Linked DNA regions of Homo sapiens. The protein of the gene in region 1 purifies or fractionates together with the protein of each later gene. This does not show direct contact. Each region holds a gene or a part of one and is shown in the gene's direction. Other genes may lie near its edges.

Region 1 (3,500 bases):
CAGGACCAGCTCCCGACAAGCCCAATGTTTATGATTTCAAAACCACATATGACCAGATGTACAATGATCTTCTTAGGAAAGACAAAGAACTGTATCCCAGCGGGTTGCCCTTTAAAAACCCCCCGTGTGGTCCTCCCTGGAAGGTGTTACGTGTGGCTCGGGCACAGGAGGCGTGTCACCCTGTGCAGTGCACACACTGGCTCCTCTGTCTTTGCGAGAGCTTGGTTTCTATTCCTGGTGCACGTCGGATCGTCCACGGGTTAGTTCCAGTGCCACCCATGGCAGTAGGCGTGGTGAGGCGCACAGACACGGTGTGGGGTTCACCCTGACGTGGTTCAGCAGAGGGTCGTGACATAGCGTAGACCAGGGATGCTTAGGTGAGGAGGTGGAACCCACAAAATCCCATTGCTTTTCACACTGCAGGGCTGCCCCGTTATTTCCTTTGCAGGTTGGTGTGCGTGCGTGTGTGCGTGCGTGCCTGATACACATGGAGCCGGGCTGCTTCACACATCTGGTGAGGTCGTTAGAAGGTCAGATAAAGAAGAGGGCGGAGCTTGCTAACCAAGCTGTTAGAAGAAATAATGGGAGAGAACATTCCTTCATTTCAGGAGGACACAGAGCAGGCTAGGTCTGCCGCGAAGACTCCTATAGAGAGAAGAGTATTCTTAAACTAGATTCTGATGGACGCAACACCAGTTGCATAATGGTTATGACAATCAGTGCCCGGGTTTTTGACCAGGCATTTCATGGTCACCCCCACGCTAATGGAAAGTTTCTGGATCTTATTTTGTTATAGTGAGTGATTTGTAGTTTTCAGAACGGAGGCCAGGCCAAACGTATTCCAAATGAAAAGAGAATAGGTGTCAAATGCTAAACCTTTTATCTTCGTGTTGGCACTGTTGCCATCCCCGCCCTCTCCCGACATCCCCGCCCTTGACCAGCATCTCTGGCCTTGCCCAGCATTGTCTATGTATTGGCACTCTTGCCATCCCCGCCCTTTCCCAGCAGAGTCTCACTGTGTCACCCCGGCTGGAGTGCAGTGGCGAGATCTTGGCTCACTGCAGACTCACTGCAACATCCACCTCCCGGGTTCCAGTGATTCTCCTGCTTCAGCCTCCTGGGTAGCTGGGATTACAGGCACGCGCCACCACACCTGGCTAATTTTTGTATTTTTAGTAGTCACAGGGTTTCACCATGTTGGCCAGGCTGGTCTTAAACTCCTGACTTCAGGTGATCCACCCTCCTCGTCCTCCCAAAGTGCTGGGATTACAGGCGTGAGCCACCATGCTCAGCCCTACTCTTGTATTTTTTTTTTTTTTTTTTTTTGAGATGGAGTCAGAGTCTCACCCTGTTGCCCAAGGTGGAGTGTAGCGGCTTGATCTCAGCTCACTGCAACCTCCCCCTCCCAAGTTCAAGCGATTCTCTGCCTCAGCCTCCCGAATAGCTGGGATTACAGGCATCCGCTGTCATGCCTGGCTAATTTTTGTATTTTTAGTAGAGACGGGGGTTTCACCATCTTGACCAAACTGGTCTTGAACTCTTGACCTCGTGATCCAGCTGCCTCGGCCTCTCAGAGTGTTGGGATTACAGGCGTGAGCCACCATGCCTGGCCTCTTGGAATATTTAATAAGCTAAAAAATTCTTATACACAGGTAGATTAATTAGGTAGCCAGGAGTGGCCCCTGAAAGTATGTCTGGCAAAACCTAGAACTGCATCCTAGCCATCACTGTACCTTCTGCCCTCCCTGCTGTCTCCTCTGCCAGTTACAGTTAAAAGGTTGTGGGTGAGGACGCTGGGCAGAGTCCCAGGCGTCTGCTGTCAGCTCCCCAGCCCGGCCTGCCTGCCGAGCCATCTGGGCGTCCCACGGTGGAGAGTGTGGTGCTTGTGACGCGGTGGTGCTGGGAGCCATCCTGGTGGCAGATGTGGGCTCTCACTGCAAGTCAGTGTAAGTCCCCAGGGACTGTCAGCAGCACGTCCTGCTGCCCCTCTCTCTGCAGAAGCCCTGGTAACCTGCGTTTGGAAAAATCTCTAAGGATTTCTGAGGAGCTGTCAGGCCATGTCCTTGTCCACCCTGTGTGGGGCACGGCTTCGACATGGCTCTGCTCCCGTCGTGGGCTGAGAAGGAGCAGGTGGGGCTGTGCCTTGGAAAGGAGGCCCTCCCGACATGCCTTTGTGCGAGGTCCCTGTCCATGCTGTCTCCATCCCGGAGCCTTACGGCGATGGGTGGCCACAGAGCCTATTCCAAGAGTCTGGTTTAGGGCTGGGTCTTCCCATCTTCACCTCTGAGTCTTAGGCGATGCGTGACCACGCAGCCCCTTCCAGGAGTCTGGTTTAGGGCTGGGTCTTCCCATCTTCACCTCTGAGTCTTAGGCGGTGCATGACCACGCAGCCCCTTCCCGGAGTCTGGTTTAGGGCTGCGTGCTCAAGAGTCTGGTTTGGGGCTGGGTCTTCCCATCGCCCTGGAGGAGGCTTTTGTCTCATCTCATGATTCACATTAAACTCTGTGCCATGAAGCTTAGCCTGACATCCTGTTTTTGACAATTACTCTTCAGTTAGCACTGTTTATTTTTAAGTTCTTGTATATTCAGTAAGAGAAAGAAAAGCAGAGAGTGACGCACATCCTCACACTCCCTTGATTGGTGTAAGCTCAGCCCCTTCATGTCAGCCCACTGTGACCTCCTGGGTTCCAGACCTGGGAAGTACTTGCCACGTTCTGCAAGGACTGAGTCCAGCTTCAGCAGTCTCATCCGGAAGGACTTGGTATAGGCAGAGGATGAGCCTGTCTCTGGTCATTCTAAAAGAAGGAGCTGAGCCCAGTGTCCCAGAATTCGGAAGCTCCTCCTTTACAGAGGGACTGTAGGGGTTGGTGATCTCCCAGGAAGCATCGGCCCAGAAGAACCCCGCGTGCGTGTGTGTGCTCTTGGTGTGTGGTGGGGGGAAGGAGTGGCAGCAGGGGTGGCGCTGGGACACTGTCAGCCACGGGCTCTGCTTTGGGGACCTCGTGTGGGAAAGGCATTGCCTGTGGTGGCCCCTCAGGAGGCTCTAGGAGGAGCGTGCCTTCATTACCTTATTTCACTCGGGGGGCGTCTTTGCCCCCTAGGTGGGGGCAGAAGGTGCAGAATGGGAAGCCTGCCACTTAGCTAAAGCTCTTGCACATGATGCCCTTGGCCTGGAGAGGAGTGAAGTCCCCAGGCAGTTCCCTGTGGACACTGGCACGATGCCGGGTGGGGCCTCAGGGGTGTTGAGATGTGCAGGTCGGGAGGACCCCGATAACGTTTCCTGGTTAGTGATGGGTGCAGGGGGGCCGCGGGAAGTGACTGTTACAAGTGAGAGCCCGAAAGCAAATCTGCCCCACAGCAGCCGGTGCGTTGGCAGAAGTCATCGCCGTAAACTGCAGTGGAAGCAAGACGGGGTTCAAGATGCGGCCCAAAGATAAGACGCAGCACTTGGTCGAGTGTTCACAGCGTCAAGACAAAGGACGGGCCGGCGCGGTGACTCA
Region 2 (3,324 bases), about 170 Mb from region 1:
CTGATTCTGCCTATCATTAGTAGTTATACTTGGAAAGCAGAGGAATTTGTAGATGTGCCACAGATGAAAGATGTTAAGAATGTGTTATAGTGTTCTGATAAACCAGGTCTTTAGCAATATGTAATAGTGCCTACAGGTTGCACTGAATTAGAGCATTCTGTGTAAGGTCTGTTGCTTTGTTTTATGTAAAGTGAATAGGTGAGTAGTGACAAAGAACTAGGTTGTTCTTTCATTTTGGTTTTATTGGTGTTGACATTTACTATCAGTACCTGCCATTTTTTGAAATAAACATTATAATTTTTACATTACTTGGGTATGTTTTTAAGTCTTTTAAACCTCAATATCTCCTCACCTAGAAAAAATATTTTAGGAAACCGAAACTATGATGTTAAATAGTTTGCACAAGGTTTTGAGGCTAGTTGGAGCTAGGACAAAGAGCTTCTAGTTGAGAGATTTTTATAAACTGTGAATTCAGCCTTATTCCAGGGTTTTTTTGTTTTTTGTTTTCAAATTTTTTCTTTCAGCAAAGTAATAAAATGTTTAATTTTTATTAAAATATTAATGTACCTTTTTTTTTTTTTCCAGAGAGTAATGCCTTCTAGCTTTTTCCTGCTGTTGCGGTTTTTCTTGAGAATTGATGGGGTGCTTATCAGAATGAATGACACGAGACTTTACCATGAGGTATTTATTGTTGTTTAATGAATATACTAATTGATACTGGGCTTGTTTGTGTTGTTTAATTGTCAATCTGAGAATTTGAAATTAAACAATCTATATTATATGGCAGTCTTTCTAACTGTTAAGTCTGAGTGTTTCACATTCACTGTTGACTGCAGGCTATCATCAAAACATTACATTTCCTTTTACAAAGGTTCTGGTGACTCAAAATGTTTTCTAAAAGACACTCCCTAATTGGGGAGGGGTCTTTTGAGACAATTTTGTATGTACTTAATCCATGTTTAAGAAAACTGTCCTTTAACTCTTACCTTTGTTTACAGTATATGTTGTTTATGTAATGTCCTGATGTACATTAATATACAGGAAGTACATTAATATATTAATCAGGCCAAGGCCGGGCGCCGTAGCTCACGCCTGTAATCCCGGCACTTTGGGAGGCCGAGGTGGGTAGATCACCTGAGATCAGGAGTTCGAGACCAGCCTGGCCAACATGGTGAAACCCTGTCTCTACTAAAAATACAAAAAATTAGCCAGGCATGGTGGCACGGACTTGTAGTCCTAGCTGCTACTTGGGAGGCTGAGGTGGGAGGATTGCTTGAGCTGGTGAAGGTTGAGGCTGCAGTGACAGAGCAAGACCCTGTCTCAAAGAAAAAAAAAAAAAAGAAACATACCTAAGTTATACAGTTAGTAGGTGGCAGAATTGGAATTTGAACCTAGTAGGATAGGATTGGATTGATGCTTTCTAAACCCTTCACTTAGGGATTTTTTCTTGAAATAACATGGTTATAGTGATAGACCTTTTTTCTTTTAAAAGTGGTGGCAAAGTACTAAACATAAGCTATATTTTTGTTCCCCAGAAAGAGAAATCTAAATTTTATTTTTATTTATTTATTTGAGATGGATGGAGTCTTGCTCTGTTGCCCAGGCTGGAATGCAGTGGCGCGATCTTGGCTCACTGCAACCTCTGCTTCCTGAGTTCAAGCAATTCTCATGTCTCAGCCTCCCTAGTAGCTGGGATTACAGGCGCCCACCACCACACCTGGCAATTTTGTTGTTGTTGTTTTTAATGGAGTGATGGGGTTTCACCATGTTGGCCAGGCCGGTCTTGAACTCCTGACCTCAAGTGATCCAATTGCCTCGGCCTCCCAAAGTGCTGGGATTATAGGCGTGAGCCACACCGCTCCTGGCCTAAATGTTAAAAATACTGTTTTAATTAAACAATATTGAATTTTAGGAATTTATCCTAAAAAGATTCTTTTATATAATAATCTACTAATATTAATTGGGCAATTACTCAGAGTTATACGTACATGAATATTCACAGTAGTATTGTTTATAATAGCAGAAAGGAAGGAAAGTAGGAACTTAATGCCCATTAAATGGCCATTAATTAAATTGTTTATATCCATATGGTATAAAATATATAATTATTAAAATTGGTTGCAGAGATTGATATTTAAGTAATTTTGAAAGATATTCATTTCAGTGTTGAACTTTCAAAAGCAAGTATGAATCTACTTACATAAGATTCTCTGTAGAGATTTCTAAGTATTAAAGATAGTGTTACCTATAAGCTGTGATCACTGATGATTTATACTTTTATATTATTTGATTTTTTTCCTACAGTGACTATTAATCTGTTTTTATTAATACAAGAGAGTGAAACCTTAAAGGCATATAATTTTGTGGCTTTTCTTTTATTGAAAAGTGTTTCAAGAAGTAAATTATAATAAGTTGCTGTTCTAAAACCTAACCAAAAATCTTAAATGGGAAAAATTGAAGTACAAAAAAGGTGATTTTAAGTAAGCTATTTGGTAAGAGCTTTATGGAATGGGAAAGAATAAAAATTTTAAAGCATGTTTTGCAACATAAAAGTAGCACAATTACGTAGGTAAATGATAAGATAGCTTAAGGGAAAGATGTTTCAAACTTGAAGTAATTTTAAAATCTCTTGCATATTTCATTTATACAAATTCATTATATACATTATTCATTTATATACATATTCTTTCAAAGTAAAATCTTTGCTATGTTTCTCTTACATGGTAATTATAAAATCTGTTTACATATGTGTATCATCATTATAATGTATAGAAATTGGAAATAATAATCCAATTTGAGTTAAATAGGAGTTATCTCAGTGTAGAACAAGATGTTCTCTTTAGACTGCATGCTGTTTTGACAACCTATCCTAAAATGTAGGCAGTCTGTTTTTAATACAAAGGATTTTGTAAATCAGTATAATTAAATTTATTGCAACTGTTTATTTTTAAATACAGGCTGACAAGACCTACATGTTACGAGAATATACGTCACGAGAAAGCAAAATTTCTAGTTTGATGGCAAGTACTTAAATTTCAGTTTTTAGAAGTTAATTTTAATGTTTCATTTTAATTTAAGTAGCATATACCCCTGACCCCAACCACCCAAGTTTACATCCCTAAACCCATTCATTCACCTAATGGGGCTCTATAGGATAAATTCTATGGGAGCATAACTTTTCTGACCTTACCTCAAATACAAGAACATTTAGAGCTGCTAGGTACTTAAGCCTCATCTAATCTAATTTTCACATTTTGTTCTAGAGAAATTGAAACCCAGAGGTGTGACTTACTCTGAGTCACATAGCTGGCTGGTGATGGATGT
Region 3 (2,199 bases), on another chromosome or scaffold:
GATTGCTAAACAAATGACTTGTGTAACTCAGAAACACTCTTTGACAAAAACTGACTTTAGTTCAGTCCCTGGTTGTCTTACACAAAGTCACTTGTCTACTTCTCTGCCTCCCAGTGGCCACGGCATTGAGACTGCTGTCTCACCCACTTTGGTTTGGTAAAGCCCTAGAAGTATTTTCAGTGTCCAGAACAAAGCAGCAGACATGGAAGATCTTTATGTGCAAGTCACTTGATTTTAGCTCTGTGTAGAAATTCTTCCATTCCACTTGATTCATACTTTTCTTTTTCTCACAGCTCCAGGTTTACACCCTGTACCTGGTGGAGTGTTCCCAGTCCCTCCTGCAGCTGTTGTTTTAATGAAACTTCTCCCTCCTCCTATCTGTTTCCAGGTTTGTTCACTTATTTTCATGGTAGATACTGGCTCTGTGGGTCATAGTAATTGTGTATAAAGTTACTACTACTTTAACTTGTCAGATTACTGGGATTAAAATTTATTCATGTCAAAAATAGGGTCCTTTTGTACAAGTGGATGAACTGATGGAAATTTTCCGAAGATGCAAGATACCAAATAGTAAGTAACAGAAGCTCCATTTCAGAGTGTCATTCCACGTTGTTGTCTCATAGGCAGTAGAGATTATTATTCTCTGCCACTGAAGTTTTCGAAACCAGCCAGCCAATTTGAAGTGCAGTGAAACCCAGGAGTTACCCAAACCCTCTTTGGCAGAGAAAGGCTTATTCACATTGAATTCCACTAAGTAAAATGTCATAAAACTTTATCTTTTCTATTCATGTGAACATGCACTATCAGGCTTGGCTTATGAAAATTATTAGTTTTAACAGCAGCTTTTGTCTTTTTCTTTAATTATTTAGTATCAGTAGTACTATCCCATGTTTTGCTAAAATAGTAGGCTATGAAATAAAGTATCCACAGTTGAACATACATACCCTTTCATAGTGGAATATGTTTTTACGTTTTGTTGTTTTGTTTTAATAGCTGTTGAGGAAGCTGTGAGGATCATTACTGGTGGGGCCCCAGAGCTAGCTGTAGAAGGCAACGGCCCCGTGGAAAGTAATGCAGTACTCACCAAGGCCGTCAAAAGGCCCAACGAGGATTCAGATGAAGATGAAGAAAAGGGAGCCGTTGTCCCCCCTGTTCATGACATTTACAGAGCACGGCAGCAGAAGCGGATTCGGTAGGGTTTTAAACGCCTCTGCAGAAAACTCCTGTCCAGGATTCCTTTTGCCTCAAGTGGTATGTTTAAAAGAGACAACGCTTTGTTACAAGGTTCTTGGAAACAAAGTTGTATTGTCATTGGTGCCTCTATCACATGGTTCTTGAGAAAAAACAAACCAACCTGTGTGAATTTTAGAATACGGAACAGACCTATGCTCTAAGCAAAATTAGGTTTTCAAAAATGTGAGAACAGTACAAAGTGGCAGAACCACATTTTGTTCCCTCTTCAAGGGTGTCTTGTATGTGCCGCTTGAAGATTTGTGAGTTTTTCAACAGTTTTATTTTAAAAACTGGATGGCTTATGATTGTAAAGCATTTTATCACATTTTCTGAAAACAATTGTTCTTGGTTTGCTTATGTAGAGTCCTGCCTTATTGTTTGTTTTTATTTATGGCAGAATGTATGAAATCCGTTTTGTAGTTTCAAATTTTAAAAGTCCTTTAAAAAATAAAAGGATTCAGAAACATCATGCTTCCTCTGCTTCTTTCAGATTTTATTTACAATAACTACTTATGTTATTTATCCAATACCATTTAAAAATAAATGTCAGGACAAGGAAAAGTCATCTTGTATTTACTGAATGTATTAATCACATACTCTTTCCTGGTCTGTCTTTTTTGGTGCTAACTAAAAACATTTTTAAGAGGCAAATTAAACATTTTAGAAATCCTCAAATATGAATGCATTTGCTCCCCAGTAAATCTGAGGCAGATTAAGATCCTGTTAATACTTTTGTCTCTCTTGAAAGCAACCTAAGTGTGGAAATTCCTTTAACCACCTGCTGTCTTGTTCTCACATAGAGTATCTCTTATCTAAAATACTTGGGACCAGAAGTGTTCAGGATTTTGGATTTGTTCAGATTTCAGAATATTTGCATCATACTTACCAGTTCACCATCCCTAATACAAGAGTACAAATTCCACAAAACTCCACTAAGCATTTTCTTTGTGCATCATGTTGGCACCG
Region 4 (3,500 bases), on another chromosome or scaffold:
ATATATTTTTTTTTTTTTTGAGGCGGAGTCTTGCTCTGTCACCCAGGCTGACTGCAACTCCGCCTCCCGGGTTCAAGCAGCTCTCTGCTTCAGCCTCCTGAGTAACTGGGATTACAGGTGCCCACCACCACACCCGGCTAATTTTTGTATTTTTAGTAGAGATGGGGTTTCACCGTCTTGGCCGGGCTGGTCTTGAACTCCTGACTTCATGATACACCCGCCTCGGCCTCCCAAAGTGCTGGGATTACAGGCGCGAGCCACTGCACCCGGCCGACTTACTTATATTTTTAAGTATCGTGTAACTTATTAAAAATAAGTTAGATATTTTGATGGAATTGGAAAGGAGGGGTAAGCTGAAAAAAGTGTGTATTTTTAATTAGAAGAACACTAATGAAGCATGTGTCCATAGAAAATAGATGACGTGCCCTTTCCAAATGTATTGGAAAGCAGGAGAAATGGCCTTTTGTTAGTTTTGTTTGTTTGCTTGTTGTTTGGGGTGTTTTTTGGTTTGTTTGTTTGTTTGTTTGTTTGGATGAAGTCTTGCTCTGTTGCCTAGGCTGGAGTGCAGTGGCGCCAATCTCAGCTCACTGCAGCTTCTGCCTCCTGGGTTAAAGCAATTCTCCTGCCTCAGCCTTCCGGGTAGCTGGGATTACAGGCACGTGCCACCACGCCCAGCTAATTTTTGTATTTGTAGTAGAGACAGGTTTTCACCATGTTGGCCAGGCTGTTCTCAAACTCCTGACCTCAGGTGATCTGCCCGCCTCGGCCTCCCAAAGTGCTAGGATTACAGGCATGAGCCACTGCACCTGGCCTTGCTTGTTGTTTTTTAAATACGTTTTACTGTGGTAAAATATCTAACATAAAATTTGCAGTTTTAACCATTTTTAAGTGTACAAACCAGTGGCATTAATTATATTCACAGTGTTGTACAACCATCACCACTGTCTATTTTCACAGCTTTTCATCACTCCAAGCAGAAACTCTGTACCGTTACACAGTAACTCCCCATTCCCTTCCGCCAACCCTGGTAATCTCAAATCTACTTTCTGTTTCTATGAATTTGACTATTCTAGGTATTTCATATAAGAGGAATCATAATGCCTATGATGTTTTCAAGGTTCATCATGTTGTGGCATGTATCAGCACTTCATGCCGAAGTCATGGTCCGTTATATGTAGACCACATGTTGTTTATCCATTCACCTGTGGGTGGACACTCGGGTTGTGTCACTTTACAGCAAATGTGAAGTGGTATCTCGTTGTGGTTTTTATTTTCATTTCTCTAATGACTAATGATGTTGAGCACCTTTTCATGCAGTCTTTTGTTCGTTTTTGAGTTTTTTCTAGCATGATAGGCCTCACAGGTATTTGCCACTGGCCCTTAATGAGCAGATTATTTGGTCAAGAAAAATCACTCTCCTGTCTATAGCATCACAGTGTGTAGGGTTTAGTCACAGAGTAGGCTCCTCCCAGGTGTTTCTTATTGTCTGTGTGCATGAACACTCCCCCAGATTTCCAAGCCAGGGAGGAAAAGCCGAATTGCTCTTTTGTGTGGTGTCACCACCTCATCCTCAGCCCCATTTCATCCTGTCACTCTCCTGGTTCTACTTCTGCTGACAGTTTAAGTTCCTGGGTTGAACTTCATGCTCATTTTCTTGTGATAACCAGCTCCAGCAAAAGTATAGCTGCAGGATAAAATTGCAATACTAGTAGTGTTGGTGGTAGTAATGAATACTAGCTAACATTGATTATTTACCATGTGCCGGACACTGTATATGTGTTTTATATGAACTGACTTGCTTAATCTTCATGACCGACAGCTGTTCTGCAGATGAGACAACTGAGGTGTGAAATCACTTGGTCAAGGTTACACAGCTTAAATAAGCAGCAGCACCAGGATTCTGTTCAGGCAGCCAGGCCCAGGCCCTTCCCCAGCAAGCAGTAAGCCCCTGCCACGTGCTGGTGCTGGCTATGCCCAGCCACAAGCCATCTACCACATGTGAGAGGCTAAGAACAATCTATCTTGGCCGGGCTGCAGTCCCAGCACTTTGGGAGGCCGATGTGGGTGGATCACTTGAGGCCAGGAGTTCGAGACCAGCCTGGCCAACATAGTGAAACCCCATCTCTACTAAAAGTATAAAAATTAGGCAGGGCACGGTGGCTCATGCCTGTAATCCCAGCATTTTGGGAGGCCAAGGCGAGCAGATCACGAGGTCAGGAGATGGAGACCATCCTGGCTAACACGGTGAAACCCCGTCTCTACTAAAAATACAAAAAAATTAGACGGGTGTGGTGGCAGGTGCCTGTAGTCCCAGCTACTCGGGAGGCCGAGGCAGGAGAATGGCGTGAACCTGGGAGGCGGAGCTTGCAGTGAGCCGAGATCACGCCACTAGACTCTAGCCTGGGCGACGGAGCGAGACTCGGTCTCAAAAAAAAAAAAAAAAAAAAGTATAAAAATTAGGTAGGCATGGTGGTTCACACCTGTATCCCAGCTACTTGGAGGCTGAGGCATGAGAATCCCTTGAACCCTCGAGGCAGAGGCTGCAGTGAGCCAAGATCACGACACTGCACTCCAGCCTGGGTGGCAGAGTAAGACTGTCTCAAAAAAAAAAGAACAATCTGTCTTGTAAGATAGAAGTTACAAAAGTGAATGGAAAGGGACTGGTAGCTAATGCTGTTGTTGTAAATACCCTCTAAAATATTCCATTTGGGGCTGAGCACAGTGGCTCATGCCTGTAATCGTACCACTCTGCAAGGCTGAGGTGGAAAGACTGCCCAGAAGTTTGAGACCAGCCTAGACAACATAGTGAGACCTTGTCTCTACAAGAATAAAATAAAACTAGCCAAGCATGGTGGCTCATGCCTGTAGTCCCAGCTACCTGGGTGGCTAAGGTGGGAGGATTGTATAAGCCTGGGAGATTGAGGCCACGGTGAGCCAAGATTATGCCACTGCACTCCAACCTGGGCAACAGAGCAAGACTCTCTTTAAATAAAGAAATATATAAAGTAATAAAATGTTCCATTTGGTTCTGAAATATTTTATTAGGATAGGTACAGTGGCTCACGCCTATAATCCTAGCATTTTGGGAGGCCAAGATGGGCAGATCACTTGAGCCCAGGAGTTCAAGACCACCTTGGGCAATATGTGAGACCGTGTCTCTACAAAAAATACAAATATTAGCCGGGCATGGTGGCGTGTGCCTGTAGTCCCAGCTACGTGGGAGGCTGAGGCAGGAGGATTGCTTGATCCCTGGAGGTTGAGGCTGCAGTGAGCCATGATCACATCACTGGACTCCAGCCTGCGCAACAGAGTGAGACCCTGTCTCCAAAAATATATCAATATATGAGGTAGGCCAGGCACAGTGGCTCAAGCCTGTAATCCCAGCACTTTGGGAGGCCAAGGTGGGTGTCAAGAGTTCGAGACCAGCCTGACCAACATGGTAAAACCCCGTCTCTACTAAAAATACAAAAAATTAGCCAGGCATAGTGGCGTGTACCTAT

Evidence for each region. Proteins that work in one complex are often made in the same cells at the same time.
Region 2: the proteins of SSU72 (region 1) and TIPRL fractionate together in Homo sapiens (co-fractionation; one large-scale study listed by BioGRID). This does not show direct contact.
Region 3: the proteins of SSU72 (region 1) and CSTF3 purify together in Homo sapiens (affinity purification with mass spectrometry; one large-scale study listed by BioGRID and IntAct). This does not show direct contact.
Region 4: the proteins of SSU72 (region 1) and CPSF3 purify together in Homo sapiens (affinity purification with mass spectrometry; one large-scale study listed by BioGRID and IntAct). This does not show direct contact.

What each region holds. Positions count from the first base shown.
Region 1 is NC_000001.11:1,561,364-1,564,863, reverse strand, and holds part of SSU72 (RNA polymerase II subunit A C-terminal domain phosphatase SSU72), read left to right. Parts: coding exon 1-91; intron 92-3,500. UniProt on the Homo sapiens protein: Protein phosphatase that catalyzes the dephosphorylation of the C-terminal domain of RNA polymerase II. Plays a role in RNA processing and termination. Plays a role in pre-mRNA polyadenylation via its interaction with SYMPK.
Region 2 is NC_000001.11:168,195,962-168,199,285, forward strand, and holds part of TIPRL (TIP41-like protein), read left to right. Parts: intron 1-585; coding exon 586-681; intron 682-2,957; coding exon 2,958-3,020; intron 3,021-3,324. UniProt on the Homo sapiens protein: May be a allosteric regulator of serine/threonine-protein phosphatase 2A (PP2A). Isoform 1 inhibits catalytic activity of the PP2A(D) core complex in vitro. The PP2A(C):TIPRL complex does not show phosphatase activity.
Region 3 is NC_000011.10:33,084,084-33,086,282, reverse strand, and holds the end of CSTF3 (cleavage stimulation factor subunit 3), read left to right. Parts: intron 1-293; coding exon 294-388; intron 389-509; coding exon 510-570; intron 571-993; coding exon 994-1,196; 3' UTR 1,197-1,699; downstream 1,700-2,199. UniProt on the Homo sapiens protein: One of the multiple factors required for polyadenylation and 3'-end cleavage of mammalian pre-mRNAs.
Region 4 is NC_000002.12:9,444,154-9,447,653, forward strand, and holds part of CPSF3 (cleavage and polyadenylation specificity factor subunit 3), read left to right. Parts: intron 1-3,500. UniProt on the Homo sapiens protein: Component of the cleavage and polyadenylation specificity factor (CPSF) complex that plays a key role in pre-mRNA 3'-end formation, recognizing the AAUAAA signal sequence and interacting with poly(A) polymerase and other factors to bring about cleavage and poly(A) addition.